2 separate regions of the Homo sapiens genome follow, and region 2 is linked to region 1. Evidence: fine-mapped expression QTL. A gene starts in region 1. The other region holds a variant in brackets. All regions are shown on one strand. Distances are between the middles of the regions.

The links. PIP is the estimated chance that this variant, and not a neighbour inherited with it, causes the effect.
Region 2: its variant is fine-mapped to the expression of LINC02208 in atrial appendage (GTEx, PIP above 0.99).

The regions. Positions count from the first base shown.
Region 1 is chr5:118,554,603-118,567,382 of GRCh38, reverse strand. It overlaps LINC02208 (long intergenic non-protein coding RNA 2208), which reads left to right and starts at 5,266. Exons shown (of 10, transcript NR_104610.1): 1 at 5,266-5,462.
Region 2 is chr5:118,517,391-118,530,170 of GRCh38, reverse strand. It overlaps LINC02208 (long intergenic non-protein coding RNA 2208), which reads left to right. Exons shown (of 10, transcript NR_104610.1): 2 at 6,357-6,522; 3 at 7,325-8,999. Among named protein-coding and RNA genes, the nearest start is that of LINC02208, 38 kb to the left of the region's middle. The variant T/C (reference allele first, on the strand shown) is at 7,814.

The sequences.
Region 1 (12,780 bases):
CATCGTCTGGCAAGCAAATATTTCACCAGTAAGTCCAGTGTGTTTCCTACTTCTTGCTCACTGGGTCCAATCAGCGTAATGTCATCAATGTAATGGACCAGTGTGATATCTTGTGGAAGGGAAAAGTGATCAAGTTCTCTCCAAACAAGATTATGACACAAAGCCAGAGAGTTGATATACCCCTGAGGTAGGACAGCAAAGATATATTGCTGGCTTTGTCAGCTGAAGGCGAATTGCTTCTGGTGGGCCTTATGGACAGGCATGGAGAAAAAGTCATTTGCCAAATCAATGGCTGCATACCAGGTACCAGGAGATGTGTTAATTTGCTCAAGCAATGAAACCACATCTTGAACAATACTTTGCATCCTTCAGTCAAGTTGACACTCAATATTAATCATCACATACCCCCTTGTCCATACCTGTGTGTGTCTATAGGAACATTCCGGAACGCAGCGGCTTTGGTAAAGCCTGATCCCTGGGTCATAGCCCAGCTTAATGGCATGATGACTGCAGTTAATTAACCCATCCATTTAAGAGACAGAAGCAAGAAGCACATTTCTGAGCTCCAGACAGTTTTGAGCATCAGAATAGTTTTAGAGAAAGTAAGATATTTTGAAATTATACAGTGATCTCTATTAAAGTGATAACAGCTGGTACCAACTTCGCAAATCATGGAATTTTTTAAGAAAGATCAACCGCACACTTGTGAAACCCCGCCAGACTAATATCATCAGGGATTATAGGAGAAGCACTTACTACTGTCAAGTCAACACATAGCCTAGTTGACCTTTTATAAATGGATGAAAATAAGTTCAGCAAACCCCAGCAAGATATATTGAAAGATAGGCTGGAGGTGAATGGTAGGAGGTCTGAGCAATTTCACTAACCCAGCCAATCAGCAGTAATTGGTAAAGTGCCTTCTCCCCTGAGAGCCTGGGGAGATGTGTGGCTGCCGATTGGTGAGCTGGTGATTGCTTGGAGGGTTTTTATCGACTCTCTTTGCTGCTTTTTGGGTGTATTTCTCCCACGAGCTTTAACAATAATGCCCATGAATCTGAACCTCCTGACTGGTAAATGTTCTCTGGCCTTGACAATAAGTGTTTCAGCTTTGCTTCAATGTTTGTTTTCTGCCAGTGCTGTGGCCTGGATGCCCTGCAGTATCTATCTTGCAGCCTGAGGCCATTATTGGGCAGCACGTTGCCATTTTCTCCAGCATTATTTCTTTTAAATATTTCTCACTGAAAATGAGTCACTTTGAGATGATTACACCATAGTCATCTGTGGGATCCATAAGCAGTTTTGTCAGTGTGTGTCTAATTTTGGTCTCCCGTTCTTTGTCCTATGTAAGGCACATCTAGAGGGCCCATCTTTCTCTGGTATTTGGATACAATTCTTTAACCAGTGATTTTACTTTTTCCTCTGCTCACTCCCAGCCAAAAATCATCATTTACTTAGATCCCATGGTATGAAACATGTTTCACAATTGTGAACCTAAGCTTGGTACTTTAACTGAGCACACATCTCACAGAAATCCCGGAGTGGCCTCCCAGGAGACTGAAATCTAAGGGCAACAGGATCAAGCCCTCACAATGAAATGGGACGCAGGCTGGCCCATCTTTCTCTGTGGCTAAGTAATGAGGCTTGTTATTTACAGTGCCCTGTTTACTTGCTGACTCTGTTAGCGTTTTTCTTTTCAATTTGGATCTCGGCCCACATGGTAACCCTCTCACGAGGCACGTGCCATTTTGATTTTAAAATAATAGGAAGAATGCTCCAGCGCTGCTTGTTGGTGCTACGACTCTCAAACTGTCTATAGATTGCCAAGTAAGTGGAATGTTTTGACAGAGAGAAATATGTGTTGTCAACATTGCTTTATCCATGGTTGAGAAGAAAAATTGAAACGACTTCGGCAGGGTTCAGACGTTGATGACTGGAATGATCTCCTTGAAACAAATGACTACAGACCATTTTGTTTTCCTTTACGCCTCATTCTACTCTAATGAAATGCCCAATTAAAAGCATAGCTTATGTGCTTAAAAGAAAAAGCTTAGAAAGGATTCTTGGATGGAGCTGTGCCCGCAGTAATCCTTCACCACAGGAGAAAATCATAGTATCTTTGTAAAGAAACAATATCATGTTGTGACTTCCAGTGGCCTGCATGGCAGTTTTAGAGGAGACCCAAAATGAATGTAACCTTTTTAAGATAGAAAGGTTGTGTGTGTATTTCTGTGTGTGCCTGTGTGTGTGTGTGTGTGTGTGTGTGTGTGTGTGTCAGACAGACAGAGAGAAACATGATTTATTTGTGATATATCAAATGGCAGACACTGGTTGGAAATAGAAAAGAAAAAAGAGTTCCCAGTAGAGTGATACATTTAGGACAACTTGTGAATTTGTCTCTGGGATTAAGCGGAGTATGGAACTATGCAGCTGTGTGTTGTCTCCTAGCAAAATGAGGTTCCCTCTGTTTCTCTGGCAGGCAAGTTCCTATCGAAAGCTTATTGGGAGTGGGAACTCAGACAGCTTGCAGAGCCCTGCTGACCATTATCTTCACGTTCAGGTCTGCGTTGTGGGAGCTACTCTCTATTTTCTTGCTTAGTGAACACTCTTGACAAAAGAAAATGTTGACAGCTTTGCCTTTCTTGAGAATCACTAAGGAAACATTTCATCTTGTCAATCTCCTTTCATGTGCTGTGCAGGAGAAGAGAAAGGGAATATTGCTTTGGAGCATAGCCTTGACTTTCAACATGCATTTAACAATTAATATTTTCTTGAGCACCTACTATGTGCTAGAGTATTTGCTAGTCATTACCAGTCAGACAAAGATGAATGGAGCTAAGTCCCTATTCTTAGAGAGCTTAGCACATTCTCATTTTAAAATCAGTTGCCTCATTAGAAGGGCTATAAAAGGGATGCAGATAAAGTAATAAGGGAATTTGTATCATTTGGACTTCCTCACGTGACCCACTCCATGGCTTCTGGAACTAGGCAGATCTGAGTTTGAACATTATTACCCATGACATTGGCTGGCACAGTGTATTTTAAGCTATGTCTCCATTTCTGTCAGTTTTTAAATGAGGATAGTGACACCTACCTTGCAGGGCTGTTGGGATGAGTAAATGAGATACTGTGTGTACAGTGTAAAGCAGTGCTTGGCACAGGTGAGTCCACCTGGAATGGCAGCTTCCTTCCTACCTCCTTTATGCCACGCTGCATCCCCTGTCAGTCATACAGATGCCTCTCACAAACCTGCCTGCACCTTACAAGTGAACCACAAGCATTAAGATGGCTTCTTGAGGCTGGGTGTGGTGGCTTCCGCCTGTAATCCTAGCACTTTGGGAGGCCAAGGTGGGTGGATCACTCGAGCCTAGGAGTCCAAGAATAGCCTGGGCAATATGGCAAAATCTCAGCTCAACCAAAAAAAAAAAAAAAAAAAAAATTAGCCAGGCGTATTGGTGTGTACCTGTAGTCCCAGGTACCTCGAGGCTGAGGCAGCAGAATTGCTTGAGACTGGGAGGCGGAGGTTGCAGTGAGCCCAGATGAAAACACTGCTCTCCAGCCTGGGTAAAAAAATAAATAAATAAAAATAAAAATAAATGGCTTCTTCAACTGTGTTGTAGCTCTGGCATGTAAAGAAATCTAACACATGGTAGTGACCATATAATAGTGAGGATGTTTTTTAAAACTAATTTTCCAAAATTTACATGCAAATGATTCTTGGCCTCTTTAAGGAATGATAATACATGGGAGGCGTTAGTCAGAGGCTACCCACCAATATTCTGGCCTTTCTCCTGCCAAAAACCTGGCACGGTTCTACTCCTCCAACACTGTGGAAGTTGGGTATGCCATGTGACTTTATTTAACTAATGGAATGTGAGCAGACGTGACTTGTGTCACTCCCAGGAGAAAGCTTTAAAAGATCCACTTACACTGCCACCACCATCATGGAAGCAAATGTTGAGATGGGGCTTGTGTCAGCCTAGACCTGTGCGATATCACAAGGAGTAGAGTCCTTGTGATAATCCATGTGAAAAATACAGCAGGGGTGAGAAATTGATTTTTTTTTTTTTTGCATTGTATCACTGAGATTTTGCAGTCTTTTGTTCATGGTCTGCCTAGATTAACATAGGAGATTATACACCTATTTCAACAATTCTGTTTTTGCTTAAAACATTGAAGTGATTCTTCTGGTGGTATTGCTGTCAGGGGCAGCATTTGACAACCACACTCTCAGTGTAAAGCCATACTTGCTTTCTGCCCTATAGTAGTATTGCCAGGCTTGACCCTCTGTTTTATTCATTAGATTTGACTCTGCATCTGGTGAAAAGAATAGATTGGACATCATTGAGCCTATTGGGATGAATACACCCTTCAGAAACAGTGGCAGGCAGAGGCTGGGCAGCGGGGGATATGAAGGCAGTTTACCCAGGGTGCAGGCAATAAGAAGATATATTGTCTATAGAAATGTTTAAAGAAATAGAACTGATTAAGATACAGTGTCTTTTGTATTACCATCACAAGTCTATAATTCTAAACAATTTTAGGGAGAAAATACTCCTCCCTTCCCCACTCCTGTTTTCCCCCCTCCTTGCGCAACTACTCAGAAAGCAGTTACAATGAGATTCAAAACTTGAAAAACAGAACTGTGAATTAGAATGTGTTGCCTTATTATGGCAAGTGTTTTGAAATAGATAGCTTTCACGTGGAATATTTATTTAAAAGAAAAAATAAAAATTATTCTATTTTAGGGTTGTTCTTGGTACATTAATTTGGACATTGGCTTAGGAATTTGTAGCTAGTCATATGAACGTTTATGTAAATCTTTCTGTCTAAATTGTTATATCCGTGAGGGCGGGGCTGGGCCTCATTCATCCTTAGGTGTTCATGGGGTCTGGCCAGTACTGTAGTCCGGTACACATAATTGCCCCCCATATATATATATATGAGTCTATATATATATATATATATATATATATATATAGTATATATATATATATATATATATACTATATATATATATATATATATATATATATATAGACTCAAACTAGGCTGGCAGTGAAATGATATTTTTCTTTTGCTTTTTTTTCAGTTATGTGTATGAGAAGCAGGGCGATATCTCCGGCCCACTTCTTTGACAGGTTCTCTTGTTGCTGATGCTGAGAAACTCCAGGAGCCTGCTATTTGTAGAGAGAAGTGTGTTCCAGCTGCTGGTGCTAACAAAGATCTGAGGTTATACACACATGACCTATCACCCACACCCACCCGATTGGGAGGGGTTGCCTCTCCCTGTGTCCACACATATGCCTTGAGTTGCTCTTCAGTGAATATCACTTTTCCTTTCATGTTTTTTCTACATGCTATTATCTGTATGAAATGAAGACCAAGAAAGGATGGGAAGAAGGAGAAGAAAAATTTTGATTTATCTCAGAAACTATACTCCGAAGTGAGAGTCCTGGTTGCAGGTAGGATTTTGTTGGTGATCATTAGAGGGATGAGGGCTGAGAGAACAATTTGAATGTTGCCTATTTCTCCAGGCTGGGGTGGGAGTGGGAAATATGAAGGCAATTTGCCCAGGGTGCAGGCAATAAGAAGATATATTACTTATAGAAATATGAATGAATATAACACTTATAAAGATTATATAGTTGGGATTGGCCCACAGTAGTTGATAATAACGAGAAGTTCTTGGAGACCAGATCATAGTGAACTTGGCCTTAGGGAAATAATTATCGTCTTGAACTCTGATTGTTTTATGGGTAAGTTATGGCATTGAGAGGTGTGTGAGGGGATGCTTAGGCCAGAAGGAGTCTTTTTACCATTTTGAATGTCCACCTTAATGTTTCCTGGGTGAAGTTCCAAGATTTGCAGGGAGCATGCACAGCCTCTGGCCTGTATGGAGTCCATCCCATCTTCCAAGGGTACTTGTAGATGGAGATTAGTCTTGGGTAGGCCATCTTGTGAATTGGAGCCAGTGTTCAGTGCTGGACAGATGTCAACTGGAACTTTCAGATATAGCCCAAGTTCTGGGACTATGAGAAGCCAAACAACCCAGGAATTTTCCTTTGTACTATTTTCCAGAAAAGGGTAGAGTCATTTTTGAGCTCCTGGGGTAAGATGGTAGAATGCAGAGAAACTAGAAAGTATCTACATTTCTCTATTGCAAGCTCTGTACATCTAGATTTGACAGTAAGAATTTGGTTGACTGATATGTAAGTGCTTTTGCACTTACAGACTCGACATGAGATTCAAATGAAAGGGACACAAATGTTTGGTTTTGCTTTTACTCCTTGAGAATAAATCCTGGACTTTACAAATATCCTTTCTAGAAAGAACAACTGAGTGAGAAACCCTAAACTGATACTGAATAAAGCAAGTATGTCTCACAGAATATCTGATTTAAAAAAAAAATTCCTGCTTTAGGAAATGTGTGTGTGTGTATATATATATATATACACACACATATACATATCTATACATATATGTATACACACACAATCATACATATATAGATTATATATGTATCTATATATATTTCTTGGATGTCTTATATTAAGCTTTGGTAGATAAGTGGACTTAGGGACCATAATTACCACCATTTTCCTTATAGAAAGTCTTTGAGTAACTTAGACTATGATCTCTTTTGTTTTTGTCCATTTGCCATTTGTTATTCAGACAATACAACCCCAAGCATGACCTTGGGCACGTTACTTAACAGTTTTAAGCCTGTCATCTATAAAAAGTCAGGGTTGGACCCAGTGACTTCTGAGGTCCCCACTTGCACCAGCAGTCTCTGATTTGGTTGCATGGGGAGACAGCTGTCACAGTTGAAGCCATGTGTGCCTCTCCCACATCACTCCTTTTCTAGAGCTTGCATTTTCCTTAGTGCCTGAGAAATACCGTTTTATAGATGCATGCCTTAGAACGGTATTTTCTCTTTTCATTGTAAAGGAAGGTTTTAGACTTTGCAACAAACGTTCTGGATAGAATGGACAATTAAAAACATGATTGAAACATGATTTTTAGGTATCCACATTATTTCACAAGCTCATTCCTTTCATCTCTACTTTGTCAAGGATTTAGGCAGCTTGTTTCTTTGACTTTCATCACATATCTTTTTTCCTTCCTGTTCAAAATAAGCTCTGTTTCCTTTTTCCTGGCTAGATGAAAGCCTGTGGACTCTGTGCTTCCTGATATCAACCCAACAGTGGTGGTAGAGGGGTTCACATCACTCCAGATAGTCAGTTTCAAAGAATAATAGTTTGGAGACTGTGGGATGAAAAACCAGCTTGAGTTTTCCTCTTCAGATCTCTCCAATACACACTGTCTATGTATTATTTCAGAACACCCATTCAAAAGTAGACTGTTTCCTTCCCTGACTTGGCACCAAATCAAGAAGTGGCATATAATGTATTGTTGTGTTTATTATGCATCATTTTGCTGCTGACACTGTGGCCATCAAATATTGGAAGATTTACAACCACAGAGGTCCAGCCATCATGCCTGAAGTGAAGGACAAAGTACTCTGTTATTCATCTTCAGCTCTGGCCCTTTATGATCAGACAGTGAGCTATATACTTATCAAAGTCAAAATAACCTTCACTTTAGAAAACATAGTTGTCCTTAATTGCCAGAATAGGAATGCATAAACAGCCTCTCTCTTGATAATGGAATGGAGGCTGAATTGATGTAAGTTTTAAGTATTTTGTAATTTTCCAATTGTGGTGCGCTCAATTAAGTTTTAATTCACAAATTATGCATGTATTATACTGGCAAAGAGAAAAAATATTTGTAGTTTTAAACTATACTATCTAAATATGTTATACACATTTGTGCCATGTTTTTGTTTTTTTTTTTCCTCTGAATCAAAGCTATGGCTGGTAGTCCTATTTCTATGCCCTGGTATATAGCAGTTTAGAGCTTGGATGCTGAAACTGGAAAGATGTAAGTTTGAATCCTTGGCTATCCCTGGAACACAGGCAAATGCCTTAGTTTATTCCTCTGTAAAAAATAGTAATAATCATAATAGTACCTACCTTCTAGACAGGAGTATTAAGAATTAAGTGAGATTGTGTATGTTGAAAGATGCTTAGCTCAGTGCCTGGTACATTATGAAAACTCAAGGAATATTTGCCATGATTGTTATTACTCCTTTCTTTCTATTATTGTTAAAAACAGCAGTCCAGAGAAAACATGTATTTCCAAGACCTTCATATCAAAGAGGCAGGAATGAAATGTTACTAGCATTTTATAAATATATACGTATGTTATGGTACTAGGTGGCTTTTGGGAGACATGTAGTTATAAGAGTGAGACAGAGATGACTCAGAAACCAGAAGGCAGCAATGAAAATAGTTCTTACTTGAAAAGGCATTTGTTTAATATGCTTACTCAAGATATATCTTACATAAGATATAAGATATATCTTAGAATTAGTTAAATCTATATAGTGGCTATATGAGCATTTAAAGTTACAGATGTTTATTTGGAAATAAGCAAGTTTTAATATGTGAATAGTAACCCCATGTCTACAAGTTGCAGTGTGGCCAAATGTAAATGGCAGAACAAATTTAGGAAATGAGCTCTAACTCTATTTTGGGAAAGACAAGGGGAATCTCTGGAATTTGGTCTTTGTTCCTAGCTAAGACCTGGAGGTGATTTTAATTGACAAGTATCTTCTGAGCAGTAAAATCAGGATGACAGCATTTGCTTTCCTGGGTGGTAAAAAATCCTCTCTAATAATGGTGGGTGAGTTGCTGGTGAATGAAGAAATGGGCTTGAGAAATGCTGGGAAATAAAATGACTGGCAACTTTAGTTTCAGAGCAATAGGCCTGTGAGTTTTCTTCATTGTTATTTTTGCTGTTCTTTCTGGTGTCATTGTAAAATTAAGTATAGACAAATGAACTGTTAATGGTCTAGAATTTCAGACCAATAGTCTGCCCAGAAACCACAAGACAAGCAATAGGGGACTCTATTTGATATGAAAATTACAGTAGGATTATTTTTATCTCTTCCTTTCCCCTCTTTCTTCTTTACCTCTTTAATAACGACAGGTAAAACTGACACCAAAAAACAAAAGTCTTACCCAAATCCATTGTAAAGTTCCCATTCAGGTGTGTATTACATAAAAATTGCTTAGCTTTCACAAGAACCACCCTTCTGAGAAGAAGAACCATGATGCATATTAATAGGTGAAGAGAGCTTCCTTGGGAAGGACCATAAACCTTGGAGGCCATAAACTCTGGAATTGGATTCCAGAATGAAAGAGCTATGAAAGCCCAGAGGGCAGGCTAAGTATGTGTTGGGACAAGTAAATAAAATGTTTTGTCCTGAATTGCAAAGTACAGTCAATTAATTGTCTACTGGGCTCTGCCACCTCCACCCCTGTTTCCTTCTTGTAGCCTACTTGTTGCTTTCTGAGTATGACCCTGTAATTAATGAAGACTATAAAATTTAATGAAATGGGGTAAAATTTTGGCTGGATAATTTTTTTTTAGTTTCATTATAAATTTTAAAGGGATGTCCTTGGCCAGTGTTTTGAACTGAACAAGAAACTGTCATCAAATTAATGTGTTCACCTTCAGAGGTGCGGCTCTCTCCAGAAGGTCATGCCTTGTGGACATAGCTGTCTTGTGGGGCTGTAGGTGAAGCCCCACTCTGGCTTTTTCTACGTATACCCAAGAAGCCTAGAAGCAGTTGAGAATCAGCAATATGAAAGTCAGCTTTCCAAATGGCCTCCCTCTTTCCTGACATTGCAATCTTAAAATGCCTTTGTCTTTCACAATCTTCATAAGGTCACAAAGGAGTGTTTGTTACCAGATTTATAGCTCTGATATGTTCACATACACACTGGGTCCCCACTAGAGGTTCTGCCAAGCTCTGGGGGCCCCACATAGGCCTCCCACAGTTCAGTCGCCGCACACATGTTTTCTGAGAGAACTCGGAGCTGCTGTCTATGTGCTCATTTTCAGTCTATAAATCCTCCGCACTTCTGTGACTGTTTGCTAGGCCTCCAGCCAGTACTATATTGTATGTGTGAATGCCACATTTCCCTAGAGAGCTGAGCAATCCTGCCTGGTTGGTGTGGACAAACCCCCAGGTGCTGAATGGGGATGGGCTTTAGCTTGTACAATGCTTTCCTTTGACCAGTGTTCCAGGGAAGAGGCCAGGCTCTTTGTGTACAGATGCATTGAACTGCCCCAACAGTGGGTATATGAACGTTCTGCTTTACCTGCAGAAGAGGGTGATGTGTTTAATTTGCTTAGGGTTTAATTAAGCTGCAGACACTTAAAAAAATTCGTTAGAATGACTGGGCTTCCCACGGTTGGCAGTAACACCGTGAAGTCATTTTCTCTAGAAAGTCAAGGCGTTGCTTTAATAAAGAGTTGACAGTTTTGGATGAGTCCTTGGAGACAGAAGAGAGAAAGGCCACATATTAGTTTTAGTCACATGACTCATTTTTCCACTGAGATTTTAACAATTAGTAAGCTCTTCACATTTAATATTCTGAAAGCAGAACAAGCCAGTAGGGAACTTGGGGTTGAAGGGGAAGAAATAGACCATGCCAATTTGTCCCATCATCAATGTAGGACACGAAAGTTAGTGAAGTAGAGGTGAGGGGTGCTAATCAAGGGGAAAATGAGGCATCCCTGCTTTGAATTCCTCACTTAGACATAGAGATGGTACCTGTACAAGCTCAGGAGGGCAAAAGGAGGGCGGAAGGGAAAAGGGTCTCCAGGATAGATCCTGGACCTATAAATAGAGCTTATTACTCTTGAGTAAAACAATAGAGCTCCCCTCCTACTTCATTCAACAAGTCCTTATAGATTTCTTGCTCTATGACAGAGATTGTGTCCTGGAGATCCTGGCTGGTCATTTTCAGTCACGTCTGCGTCTTTATTAAATGTTTCCATCGGTCCACATGTGCTAGGTGCTCCAAGAGAGTTAACTGGAGCCAGCAGTGGCCTCCCTGAATTTTGCAGAAAAGACGAGATGGATATACTTCTATTTCAGTGTTCAGTGTTTAGAAATGAGCAGTCTTGCATTGTTATGCAAATTCCAAGGTAATAGAATGTTTACAAATTACAATAGCTGCAATTACAGGAAAATTTTTTGGCACTTATTTATGTTATTGTGTTCACTGAAGATTATAGCTTGTTACTTTCTGTTCTAATATACTTTACCCACTTAAGTCTTGAAATAGAAACGAAATGCTGGTGTATCATTTTGCAAGAAAGATATATATGTTTCTTATATTGCATTAGACAGGTTAATATGTTTTTGCATTTTATAACAGGGAACTTTATTAGCATGATGAAATTAATGCATGCAGGGCAATATCTTCCGAACTAGTTGTTACCAGTAGATAAAGTCTGATGTGGTAATTGCTAACTGAATGTTGGATCAGGGTTATTACTGAAGTAAAATCATTCACTGTGGGATGATCAGAGCTACAATATTGTGAATGACAAAAGAGCCATAGCCACTCTCTGGTTTTAATTAGCTAAAGAGGTGTCCTGGGTGGTTTTGAAAGGCTTGTCTTATCAATATTGTTACTTAGAAATGATTTACAATATTCTTACACGGTCTGCTAATGTTTCTATCATTAAAGGTCTATCATTTCCATTATGAACTCTGTTGCTGAAGGCTTTGCAGGCATGGCTTAAATATTTATTTCAATACCGTATGTGTGTTTGTGTGTGTGTGTGTGTGTGTTGTGTTTGTGTTTGTGTGTCTGTTTACAACATTTTCTAAGGTCTTGAAATTCCAGGAGTGGCTGTTTATGGATGTACCATTATTGATCTTATTTATTCATATGACAGTGCCCAGCTTCAGTCCCATGAAGAGATATAAGCCTAATTTTTTCAGAGGAAATGACTTCTCTGCTTTATCCATTGATTTTTTAAAAAATGTTTGAAAGTGAGTTTTGATTACCTGAAAATCTGCATGAGCAGATCTGATGTAATATACCTTCTGCCATTTAATTATTTGGTTTGTTCTAACAGTAATGCTTCAAATGTTAATAAAATTTCCAGAAATGTTTATCATCTGAGGTGGTCCTAAGTGAAATGTTCATATTTTCAATTCCTGAATAAATACAAACGGAAACATTTTTGAAGGAAAAAAACGTTCTTTCAGAGGTTACTGCTTACATTACAATGACTACATGCCTGAGAAACCTGTTTGCCAAGTAATATAATCATGTTTCCTGGTCCCTGCATTTACACCATTACATCGTTTCCCAGGTGCAACTGAAGGACTATGGCTATGGTAGCTGCCCAGGAAGACTGGCCATCCGATTCATGCTTGTGCAGTCCTTGGACTTTTAGATCTACCAGGTACCCACACCTCACAAAGGTCTTTTTCTAGGGAAGTGATAAACTTTCACAGAAGTTTTGTTTTGAATCTGAAGGGACCATACGAATTACCTATTCTTATTTATGGCACACAAATGAGAAAAATGAGACCAAAAGAGGTTTAGTGTTTGTCTAGAGACAAGTATCTAGTTATTCAAAAGACCATGAATCAGAATGCAGCCTTGCCTTGCAGTATTTCTTTGTGATAACTGCTTGCCTTGCCTTGTTATTGCATAGATGGGAAGGTTTCTAGTGGTTTTCAGAGCTCTGAAGGCCATCAGAGATTCTTTTGCTCTGTTGCTAGCTTTCCTTGATACTGACATAGTGTTACCGTAAAATCTCTTGTTTTTCTTCCTGGTTCTCAGGTAGAACCCTCTCCCAGAAAAGGAATCTTATTGGCAGTATATTGAATTTTAATGTGTATAT
Region 2 (12,780 bases), 37 kb after region 1:
TTATCTCTTTCTTTAAGCCTTTTCCTACAATTTATATTTTTTCTTTTTCTTTTTTTACCTAAACCAAATTACACATTGTTCCACTTATCTAAACAGTAGAAGACAGGAATCAATTGCTTTGGTTTTCTGATAGCACAAACCTAGCTGCAGATCTGAAACAGAATGAACTGGCGTTAGAGTGATAGCAGGGCAGCCTGCCAACAGCACCCTTTCTCAGTGACAGCTAGCCGGTGCTGGGAATGGTCTGCACAAAGGCCTGAGTTTGTAATCAACTGCAAACTTGGACTCTTTCTATTTGGATAGCACTTGCTCTTCTCCAGCTGAAGTGGGTGATTGCATTGGGACTATTATCTATCAAATGCCATGAAGAGCTATTAATATAGGTGGAATAATTGAAGAAACAGACTTGTTGGAAAATGTAACTACTTTACACATCATTGTAAATTGTTTTCCAGGCTATACTGGTCTCCCTTCAGCCATGAAAACATTCGGATGTTAAAAAAAAAGATGCGTCTTGAATACTTAACCATAAAAGTAAATGAGATTGCTTTAGACTGCTTTGTTAACACTGGAACCATCCACACATGGAAATTATTACCTACCCTGTGTTTGCTTGAATGTTGGTAGATATTGTCGTGCCAGCTCTGATGTCTGTTAGTCTAATGTGTACTTCTGTGCAAACAAGTGAACAGCTCAATATCATTTTTAGGAACATTCTTTCATTAAATAATGAATCTTTTCTAAATACCATTACTACTATTTTACATTTTCTCTCTAATTTACGAAGGAGTTTTGAAGCTGGATTGCGTTCATGTATAATGACTCTCACATTGCTCTGAGAGATGAGTTGTGGGAGTGATAGAGCATCTGAAAGCTGGGTCTTAGGTACATCTGGGAAGAGTTTTAAGCAGGTCAGCTGCCTTCTTTACAGTGATTTCTCCATATGGATGGCAGTTTGTATAAAAATCTATCTGTCCAAATTCTTCTTTCTATTCAAGGTCAAGCTCAAATCTCACCTACTTTAAGCAGTTATACTTGAGTAATTTGGTACATATAGTCACTCTCCCTTCTCAGTGAAGTGGTATGAGAATAGGTATTTTCTTAGCAACTACTGTGATGGATTGTCACATCTCATCTAATGTTTACACAGCTACTCAGTGAGGTGGGCACTATTGGGAAATTAGCTGAGGTATGTATGCTCACACACCTGGGAGGTGGAAGAGTCAGGATGTGAATTCACGTCTGTCTAACACTAAAACTCTTTCTACCATACCTTGTGACTTCATAGAACTTTCAATGTGGACAGAGCATGATACATATACTTTAACATTTCTTTTTATACTGTTTGTTTGTATTTGTAGTTGTTTCATATATGGGTTTTCTATTTCTAGCAATGTTTTAATGTCCTTGAAGACAGTTAGACAGTTCTGAGAGATACAAAGAAGAAGACATGACCCCTGCCTTATTGTAGGTTAATATAGAGTATAGACCTGAAAAGAAAGGTATCTCCAAATCCATTATAAGAGGTCTGATGGTGGCGGGGCATAGTGGCTCACGCCTATAATCCTAGCAATTTAGGAGGCAGAGGTAGGAGAATCACTTATGCCTAGGAGTTCAAGAATAGCCTGGATAACATAGTGAGACCTTGTTTGCTCAACAGATTTTAACAGATGAAACAATTAGCCAAACATAGTGGTGGTGCATGCCTGTAGTCCCAACTACTCAGGAGGCCGAGACGGGAGGATCACTTGAGCCCAGAAGTTTGAGATTACTCTGAGCTGTGATGGCACCACTGCACTCCAGCCTGGATGACAAAGGTCTGATGGAAGGAAGTCTATGGAGGATACCGAGGCAACACAAAGGAGGAGATGGTCTCTTCTACCTGTGGAGACTGGGGTAAGAGTGTGTGGGAGTGGAAGAGAAAACACTCCAGGCAACAAGAAGGCATTGGAGGTATGAAACAGCCAGGTGTGGTGCATAAAGGCAAAAAAGCTAAGATTGGTTGGATCATGCATTAAAATGGCAGGACTAGGGGGTTAAAGAGAAGAGGCTAGAGAGAGAGAGAGTTGGGAAGAAGGCAGGAAATAGGTTTCTTTAGTGCTTACTGAGTTTGAATTTTATTCATTTCTATGCCATCAAATGCTTTTAATCAGGGAAGCAATATAATCCAAACAAAGAATTTTGATTAAGTCTGTATACAGCAGGGATGGATACTATTTGAAAGGTGTTTGAGTAGTAGACAGGTGGGCAGTTGAGAGACTTTTGCAGTTGTCCTGGCAAGAGATGATGAAGGCCTGGATTAGATGAGGAGCAGTGGGAATGGAAGGTAGTCCCTACAGTCAAACTCAGTGTATTGTTCTACTGTCAACTACCTTGAATACTTCTTGTGGGCAGGAATCATTTCATATTTTCAGTTAATGTCACAGTTCAATTCCAAGCACATGAATCCCCTTTTAAATTTTCCCTTTTTAGTGCATTTACTAAAAAAATTCTGCAAAGGATCTGAGTTGGTATGACTTCAAAGCATACAAATGTTTTTGCGTTTGAACTGCTCTATGGTAGGAAGTGAAATTTAGCCCTGTTTCCTGCCATATCCCCATGTGGGCAGAGTTACTATCATCATTATTTGGTTTTGGAAGCAGTGATTCACAGATGAAAATAACCTTGGAATTCGAAAGAAAAATCGGGAGGAAAATCAGAAGTATTACCAAAATAATTTTTTCTTCTATCAGGACTCTAGCTATTTATGTTTTCATATAAGTAAAACTGAAATATAGTAGCAAGTGTTAAAGCAATTTAAGTGTTTCAAGCTCTTAACTGAGTGTCCTTGAAGCCTATAATGTTTGTGGTAGGTAGTTCCATTGCTGTAAATCTGTGTTGACAGGTGCAAATTTATACTAACAAATTAATAACACAAGTCAGAAAAATAAACCCCAGCTCTGAAAACATTGTATTAGCTATAGAACTAATAATATCAAGAAAAAAAAACAGATCAAATGCTTTCTGACCATTTTGTCTCTTGATTAGACTGAGCTGTTTATAGATGAAATTATAACACTTGGTATTTTCCTCACCTGTGTTTTTCACTTGTGGAATTTATTCATCACATCTGTCATGATTTGTATATCTAGAGAAAAGTTTTAAAGGTGAACTAAAAACTTAAATATACAGCTATGACAAGGCTTCACATTCTGTCTCTGCACTGTGACACTTTAAACCTCCACAAGTTATTTATCATCCAGTTTCCAGTTTCTAGGTTTCTTCTTTAGACCTGTGATAGCTTAGTAAGTGAATATTTTCTTGTTTTACGTCCTCCATACTAGATCTCTTGAATCTCCTTGAAAGAAGGGATTATATCTTGTTCAGCTTCGATCAGTTTTTATTAATAGTAGAATGTTTTGGCATCTAATAGGGTCATTTAATCAATACTGGTTGAATAAGAACAGATGTCCCCTCTTTTAGAAAAGGGAATAGTTGTTTTTGAGGTGAGCAGATGTCCACTCTTTTAGAAAAGGGAATAGTTGTTTTGGGTGAAAAATGTAGGTATGAGTAAACTGAATCGACAGAAATCATTGAGAAAGTGGGAAAATGCCTGGCATGATGTATGATATGTTGAATTTTATGTTTACTGAGTTAGGCAAAAACACCGTTAAAACCATTTTGATGTGGATCTTAAGGTTTTTTGACTTCTGAAGTTCTAGATGAGGAATAATTCTTTTTAAAAAATAATATCACTTAAAATTCGGATTTGTAAGAACAACTGCTTATACTTCTTTCCTAAAAAGAGAAACCCTACAAAACCTTAATTATATATATAGATAGCTATACTCTGATGGTTCACATGCATATCTCACAGGTTATGTTGTTACCTCTATGTCTGGTAGGTAGAGGTGAAACAGCTAGGACACCAATCATCCCCTCGATCAACTGGACTACACTATCTTTTCAGGCTGTCTGGACTACAGTCTCCATCCTCTCCTCCTGCTCCATGTGCAGTCTGCCTGTGCTAGTTTCCTCCTGCTGCGGCAACAAATGATCACAAACACTCTGGCTTAAAACAACACCCACAGTTCTGTATGTCAGAATCTTTGTAGGTTTAATAGGGTTCTCTGCTCAGGGTCTCCCAAGGGCCAGATCAAGGTTTCCGTCAGGCTGGACTCTTTCTGAGAGGTTCTGGGGATGAATCAGTTTCCAAGCCTATTCAGATTGTTGGCAGAATCTTTTTTTTTTTTTTTTTTTTGCAGTGTGGAACTGAGATTCCCATTTCCTTACTGGCTGTCAGCTAGGGTCCACTGTCTGCTACAAGGGCCCCCTGAGTCCCTTCTCATGTGGCCCCCTCCATCTTTCATCCAGCAGTGTTACACTGAATTCTTCCTCTGCTCTGACTCTTTCTGACTTTCCCTTTGCCTTCCTCCCTGTCATAAGCCAGAAAACGTTGTCTGGTTTTAAGGGCTCATGTGATTATATTGTGCCTACCAAGATAAACCAGTATAATCTTCCCATCTTAAAGTCAACTGACAAGTGGCCTTCATTACATCTGCAAAGTCCCTTTTGTCATGTAACAAACATACTCGTGTGTGATATCCTGTAGTCACAGTTTCTGGGGGGTAGGGCAGGGCATTTTTAAGAGGCTGCCTTAGAAATCCGTCTATTGCACCCCCTAAAAAACAAACAAACAAACAACAACAAGAAAAACTTTGCCAGATAGAGGCCAGTCAGTCTTCCGTAGAGGGTATCTATGGCTAACAGTCCATTAGCAAAATGCTGTCACTTTGTGTAATGCCCCTGTGAATTCCTCTTAGGTCTATGTTTCAGAGTAGTTCCTGGAACTGAGACTTTCTATTATATTTTATTAATATCAAAATAAATTACCTAGCTAACAATAAGAGGACTAAAACTTAGGGCACATTTTCTGTGAATATATGAACTTTTTCATGCACAGAAGGTATCAGTTAATTTTATGGTCCCTCAGCTATGTTACTGGTACTTATAACACCATGTGCCATGTAAATACCTTTGAAAATGTCATACCATGGTGTAGCACTGAATAAGAACATGAATGCAGATGACTGTCCAATCCCAGGCAATAGAATTAGGTGGTGGAAATTACCACTTGTGGATAAAGCTTCTTCTTTTTTTTTTTTAATCACAAGCTAGGACAGTTTTCAGGAACAATTCATATTTTATGAAGAGCTGTCACTGAATATCCACCATCATCATCAGCTTCCAGGTGACAGTCAAGAGAAGTTGTTTGACTTTTAGTAACTAATTCAATAAGGAAATTAAAAAAACCCAACAATTGTGATCACATAAGAAGCGCAGAGTAAACACTTGGAATTATACTATCAATACTAAAGTTGCTATATAGAAAAAGATTTGAAAGTATGGCTTAAAAAGTGTGGCATCATGATGGTATGATGGCCAAAAGTGATGATGAAGAATCTTTAGACTTTTGAAATGGAAGGGCATTTCTACTCAAACTGACTTTTTAAATGTAAAACGCATCTTCTAGATTTATTTTTATTATAAGTGAGACAGAGCTAATTTATATATAAAATATCCACACTGCTCTTTATGAATGGTTTTCTGTTCATTTTCACATTAGGAGTTTTATTACTGATCGAACTGATCTTGATACTGAAGAATAAAAGGGTTACTAGTTGTTTAGTATTTATCAGTTAGTTTTAAATTTAATTGTGTATCCATTCCCCCAAAAGGTGTTGTTAAGTTGCTGTGTCTTACAATTGATGGGAACTGAGAAGTGAATAAGAGAACACAGAGCCACACATTAAAAGTGCCTAAAGACAGATACAGGTAGTATCTGTATGAAATATTTGACACAAAGAAATTTATACTATTTTATACATTATACATTCCCCCCCCGCCACTCACCCCATTGTCTGTTTTTCAGGCTTGTTTGTTTTTAGGGTATGTACTTTGGAATGAGAAAGGAATTTTATAACAGTAAAGAAGGCATTATACTGATTTATTAAAATTTAAAAATAAACTGTAAGTGGTATAATATGGATGATTGGATACTGACCTGAGAAGAAATTTCCATATGTAACTTTTAATGACATCGGTATTATGACCATTGGTGAGATACTGTATTCTGCAGACATTTTTCTCTCTCCAACATTGGAGATGATGGAATCTTCTCTACATCTTCCTGCATGAGACTACTTGTAAGAACAAAGGTGGTTGGTGCTTATTTAATGCACCGAGTTCTTTTGTAGGGAACCTTTAAATCACTATTTTGATTTAATTCTGAATCAATTTTATTCTTGAACCGGGAAATCATATTTTAACATGAACTTGCAAATAGTTCAGTGCTTCACTCCCAATTCCTATTTCAGCATCCTTCACCGAAGCACGAAGCAGAATCAAGCTGTTGCCATGAAGCTTGTTTCAAGAGCTCAGAAATACTCCAGGGACTCCTTTACTACTGCTTTTCAAAGAGGCCTTTTTTTCTCTCTTCTCCTTTTCCTGCAAAGAGGGTTATATCCAGTGCTCAAGGACATGGTAAGGCCAACAAGGACTGGAGGAATCTCCAGGACTATGATCTCTTGAATTGTGAAATGTGACATTCTGATTGCTAGCCTGCCTTTCTTCCCACTCCACCAAATTGTAATACTTCTTTTCATGCTACAGTTTTGTAAAACTTTACTGTGTAATAGAAATTGTCTATTCATTTTTAAAGAACTACACTCCCAGAGCAATTGACATTTGTTTTGTTTTAAGTCTTCTGTGTAAAGGTTCATCAAATTCCCATTAAAGTAACATTTTTGGACTATATTATCTGTTCAAAGATCTTAATTGACATAAAAATTTTCTAATTAATGGGCTTCAAAAAGTGTTTTAATCTGTCAGTAAAGTTGACTTTTACTTCAAATATATCATGTTTAAATTTTTTTCCTCTGTAAGGTAGGAGCCAAAGATTAAATATTTTTAAAAAGCTTTAAAAAGCCTGTATTGATATTACTACTACTAATTATAGATAGGGATGTAGGTCCAAAATTAGTACATGGATTTAATGCGTTTTCAGTAAAGTTAGGAATAAAAATAACATCACATATTTCATTTTATTTGAGGTAGCCAAGAATAGCTATTTTCCTTTAGAAACTTCAACAGAAGGAAGCTTTTCAACTTCATAGCATTCTTAGGGAAATATAACTGTCCTGTTTCATAGAGGACATGGAGTAAGAGAAAATATGCTATTTTTTTTAAGGAGGCAAAAGGAGGCAGACTTTGTCAATTATATTTATGTTCATTCCAATAGATCATAAGATTTTCTTCTGAAAAGAATATTAATCTCATTCTACAGGGATTATCAGCCTAAGGCATGAGTACATGCTGTGGAAACAGAAATATGTATGAAGGGATGTATGAAACCACAGAATAAATGGAATCCACATTCTTGAAGTAGCTACAACTCTACTTGAGGGTAAGTAATTAAGTATTTTAAAATGCAAAAAAGTATATATTATGAGGTAGAAACTAAATCTTTATTTTTAGGATAAAACATTTGAATTCAAAGGGACTTTCAGCATGTCGGGAAGCAAGTCTGACACAGGAATAATGTCCTCTGAAGCAAAGGCTTTTTCAGTGGCAAAGCTTAAGAATGCTGATCTGCATGATGGGAAAATTTAGTGTTGGCACAAGAAATTAACTAATATGTTTTTCTGTTGTCTGAAAAGGAAAATAATGCTTGGCTTCAGGTATTTGGAAATACTGCACATTCGGGCTAAGAATGAGATGACCATTTTCTCATTTTCAACTAATTATTTCAAGATACCAAAACAAAACAAACAAA[T/C]GCCATTGGTGAGTACCTGCTATATACAAAATGAGCTGTATGTAGTGAAGTGGCCAGGAAAGGCAGAGTTCACAGCCATAGGTAGGGCAGGCCCTGGCCACCCTTTAGGGGAGCAAGAAAGGTAAACCAGGTGGATGAAACATATCCTATAGCATATTGTAATTGGTAAGTGGATGCAAGTGGTTTCTTAGCAAGTCAGAGGCATCGGGCTGTCTAAAAGAGGTAAGAAGATTATACTGACAGAGAGGTGGAGCAAACAATGAGGTGTCTGGGAGGAAGCATTTGAAGAGCTGCAAGGAGGTCTGATTTATGGTAGAAAAACTGAGTCCCCAGGAACTGGGGAAGTGACTGGCAAGAAGAGGACAGGGCTTCTAGTCTAGAGGAATCAAGGCATAGGACATATTGCTTACCTAGAGATTCAGTCAGGGGTATGGGATCCAGCCTGGGTATAGTTTTTGGAAGGCTGCTTACTTGATTGGGTTGGAGTGGGACTAACAGCAAGTGTGATTTGATGCTGACCCTTCAGTACTGGCCTGCGTAGCTTACAACAGTTACCCTGTCTAAGAAGGAGATTGATTCCAGAACCCAGAATAAAGCAGAGAATGCAGATGGTGGTCACATGGGTTCAGGTAAGGAGTAAGGAAAGTCACTGGCCCTTCTCCAAGTGCTGTGCAGGTGCAAAAGTTATTTAATTTTCTGTTTCTCTCTTGAATGAATATGCTACCTATTTGGTGGTATAACACGTAAACTCATTCATATTAAATGTCAATACATGCTTTAATGTTTTAATCAATAAATGTACTAAATAATTTAAATTTACAAGGGATTTTGGAAACAGATCCAACTTTAAGCATGGCAGGAAATTGATATTTGGACAAGGAATGTTAGCACATTCTTAGATCATACTCAGATTTAAGGTAAGACTACTCTATTTTTCAAACCAATCTAGGTATATAAAACCAAATCTAGTTAGAATGAGAATACTAAATTAAACATAAGTTTGTTATTCAGATATTCCATGTAGAACTGTGGGATGAAGTGCAATCAGCTGTGACTGGTTGGAATAAGGACCTGCCTTATCCCATGGAGAGTTAGAGAATCTGTTCCAACAAGGACAGAAGGTCCAGGTGGGAAGAGCTCTGGAAAACAAAACTCTCTGACAGCGCTCTTGAAAGCTCTGCTGGCAGTAAGTATGTACTTGCTTATGATAGATTCGAGCTTAGTGTGGGAATCAGGATCTGAACACAACTCACCCCCTTCCCTGTCCCATTCAGTTGACGCTCTTGGGGTGTAGCATGCTGCTTGCTGCACATGAGTCTGTGTTTTGCTCATGCCTGGCAATAGCTGCTTGGAGCCTCACCTCTGGAAGCTGATGATTTCAAGTATCCAGACCTGTCATGATGCTGTCCAGGAGGGGGGTTAGGCTGTCATCATCTATTAGACAGCCCCCAGCTGACACACACAAGGCCAGTTACTGAGTGCCCTTTTCTCTCAAGCTTTTGATTTGCATCTTTGGGTAGGAATTGGGATAAGACACACATTCAGAATCCAAATTGAGGCATTCAGTTGCTCTCCTATGCTTGGTTTAATTTGTTTATTCATTATCTTGTAGTTTGGGCAGAATTTGCAAAGATTTTACAATTTCATGAACTTGCATGGAACCATTGCTTTCTTCAGAATGACTTTTCCATGGGTCATAAAAACTGAATGGCTGGGCACTGTGTCCTCATATTCATTGACAAGAAATTTAAGTAAACTGGATGAAGCTAATCTTTCTTACTTGGGACCCAGTTTGAGTCTTCAGCAGAAGAATATAAGGCCTGCCTCTGAAGTGCTCCTCTTGCCATAAATCGGGTACATGACCATACCTTTACGAGAAACTAAGACAGATCCTGACCTTTACATCATGGAGTTTTGGAGTTTTACCTAAATCACTTCTTGCTGTTACTCTGCTGTTGACTTTTTGTCACTATTGTAATAACTAGGCTTCAATCTTGTGGAAAATTTTGACAAAATGATTTTTGTCTTCTGCTCTTCTGGGTGCTCCTATCTTTTTTTTTTTTTTTTGTCCATATACTCACTCTCCCAGCACTGGGGCCCAGGAGTATTTATAGGTGTCACTTACCCACTTTGCCTTCTTCAGTAACTGCATCCCATGCCTTCCCCACTTGCAGGGATGGAACACATGACCCAGTTCTGTCATTCATGTTTCACAAGCCCTTGTCATTGGTTTAAGGCTAGGCATGTGACACAGGCAGGTTCTATCAGAGTCAGAAGGAGAGCACTTTTGTAGGATCTACCAAGAAACCCGTGCTTTAGTTTATGCAGGCTAAGATAGAAGAAGCTGCATGATCTAGAGCTTCAGCAACCATTTCTGTGACATTGAAGGTAACTGTTAAAAAATGAAGCCAATATACAGAGGAGAGTAGAGCCAAGCAGAGGAGGACAGATGGAGAATATTTGGTAACATCATTTGGGTCCTTTCATGCAGCCATGTCTTAAGCCAACTCCGAGCCAGTTTATTTTCTACTTTGCTTAAACAAATTTGCATTGAATTTTATGTATCTTCAATTTTGCAAAAGGCTTAACTAATGCACCCTGCCAGTGATTAGAGTCTTGGCTGAGAGTTTCAAAAAAACATGGCTGGGCTTGGCTACTTGCTGACAGCCTGCTTGATACCACCTGTGGCCTGGTTCTCTGACCATCCCCACCTTCATATTTTCTGTGCTGGGTTTATCCCTATTGAGACATCCTGATATTTCATATTCAACCCTGATGCTCTTTTGCAATCTGGATAAAATTCCAAGACATAGTAACTATGTTGCCCCCCAAGAGTATTTTAAAAAGGCTTAATGACTCAACCAATAAATTGTCTCTTTAATAACTCAAAGAAGTTTCAAGGATTTTCACGTAACTAACCCTGGGATACATAAATGTATTAAGGTCAGTGGCTCATTAGTTTTTCCTTTTCTATTGTGGATGTTGTTTTATCATTTTACCTTCTTTGATAGTGGCCTTTATGACATTCTACTTGGCTGGCAGGCAACACAGTAACTGCTTTTAAATATAAGAGATGCTGAAAGGGATTTCTGTAATAGATTTTATTATAATGGGATCAGAATGGCAGGCAGGGCCGAGAAGAAGTTAAAGGCAAGGCAGCCACATTGTTCTTATTGCCTATAGGTAAGCATTTCGTGGTTTTCTGAGAAACTAAAGATGACCTGAGAAGTAGGACTTAAAGAAAGCATATTGAGCTCAGTAAACTCTTAAGACTCTGGTGATAAGATGAGCAAAGACAGGCCTAAGGATATTCTCCTATAGACCATGGACTTTGTGAGAATGGGTGTTGGTTCTGGGAGTTGAGCCGAGATTCAATCTATGTACCGGACTGAAGGACAACTTTAAACCTTATAGGAATACTAAAAATGCCCTGTAGGGGCAGTTTCCATTCTACTCCATGTGTTAAAAGTGCCTCTTTTAATCCTAGTTAGACTGTTTTAATTGGAATGATCTTTCCTCAAATTCTTCCTCTTTATGGTTTTTTTTTCGATCCTGAGTGCATAAAGAGTCTTCATGGGTTAAAACAAAACAAAACAAAACTCCTTACAGTGAATTGAGAAGCAACTGAAGTCTTCTTCATTCCCTGACCTCTTTCCTGATTGCTTCCACCTCTTTCTCTTGCCCTATACCAAGGTCTTCTCTGCTTTTTGATTCTGATCCATTATGTAAAACATTTCAGCCCCAGTGATAACAAAGCTAGGAAAGAAGCTTGCAATATGAGGGGCAGAGGGGTTCCTGGGTAAGTGGGGTGGCAAGGGCTTGATATTCTTAATGGAGAAAGTCTTAATAGACAATATGAAATATAAAGAGTTTTGAGAAAAGGATGGTCATTGTGATTTGAATAGAGAAAATAAGAAGGATTTTTTGAATGTTTGCGTTTTGGAATATTTGCATATATATACATAGAATGGATATCTGTGGTTGAGTCCCAAGTCTAAACACAAAATTCATTTATGTTTCATATATATCTTATACACAAAGCCTGAAGGTAATTTTATTCAATATTTTAAATAATTTTGTGCATTTATCACATGAGGTCAGGTGTTGACTTTTCTACTTGTGGCATCATGTTGGCACTCAAAACATTTTGGATTTAGGAGTATTTCAGATTTTGAAGCATTTCAGATATAGGATTTCAAATTAGGGATGCTCAACCTGTACTAGGAAGATGGGCCAGGTAGAGACGAGAGTCTACCTTTGTTTAGTCTAGCTAAAGATTTGTCAATTTTGTTTATCTTTAAAAAAAAATACAACTTTTTTGTTGATATGCTAGATTGTGTTTTTTAGTCTCAGTTTTGTTCTTTTGAAAAGATAAACAAAATTGACAAACCTTTAGCTAGATTAATTAAAAAAAGAGAGATTACCCAAATAAGTAAAATCAGAGAAGAAAAAGGAAACATAATAACTCAGACCACAGAAATACAAAGAACCATTAGAGACTATTATGAAGAACTGTACACCCACAGACTGGAAAACCTGGAAGAAATGGGTAAATTCTGGTAAACATACAGCTTACTAAGATTGAAACATAAAGGAGTAGAAAACTTCAGCAACAGTAACAACAAAAAAATAAGCAACAAGATCAAAACCATAACAAAAAAAACTCCCATCAAAGAAAAGCCTAGGATCCGATGGCTTCACTGATGAATTCTATCAAGCATTTAAAGAACTAATACCAATTCTACTCAACTCTTCCAAAAAATTGAAGAGGACGGAATATTTCCAAAATCATTCTACAAGGTGAGCATTACCCTGATACCAAAACCAGACACAGATGCAACAAAAAAAGAAAACTACAGGTCAGTATCATTGATGAACACAGATGCACAAATCCTCAACAAAATACTAGCAATCCAAATCCAGCAACACATTTGATAATGTTTGGACATGTGTTCCCCCCAAATCTC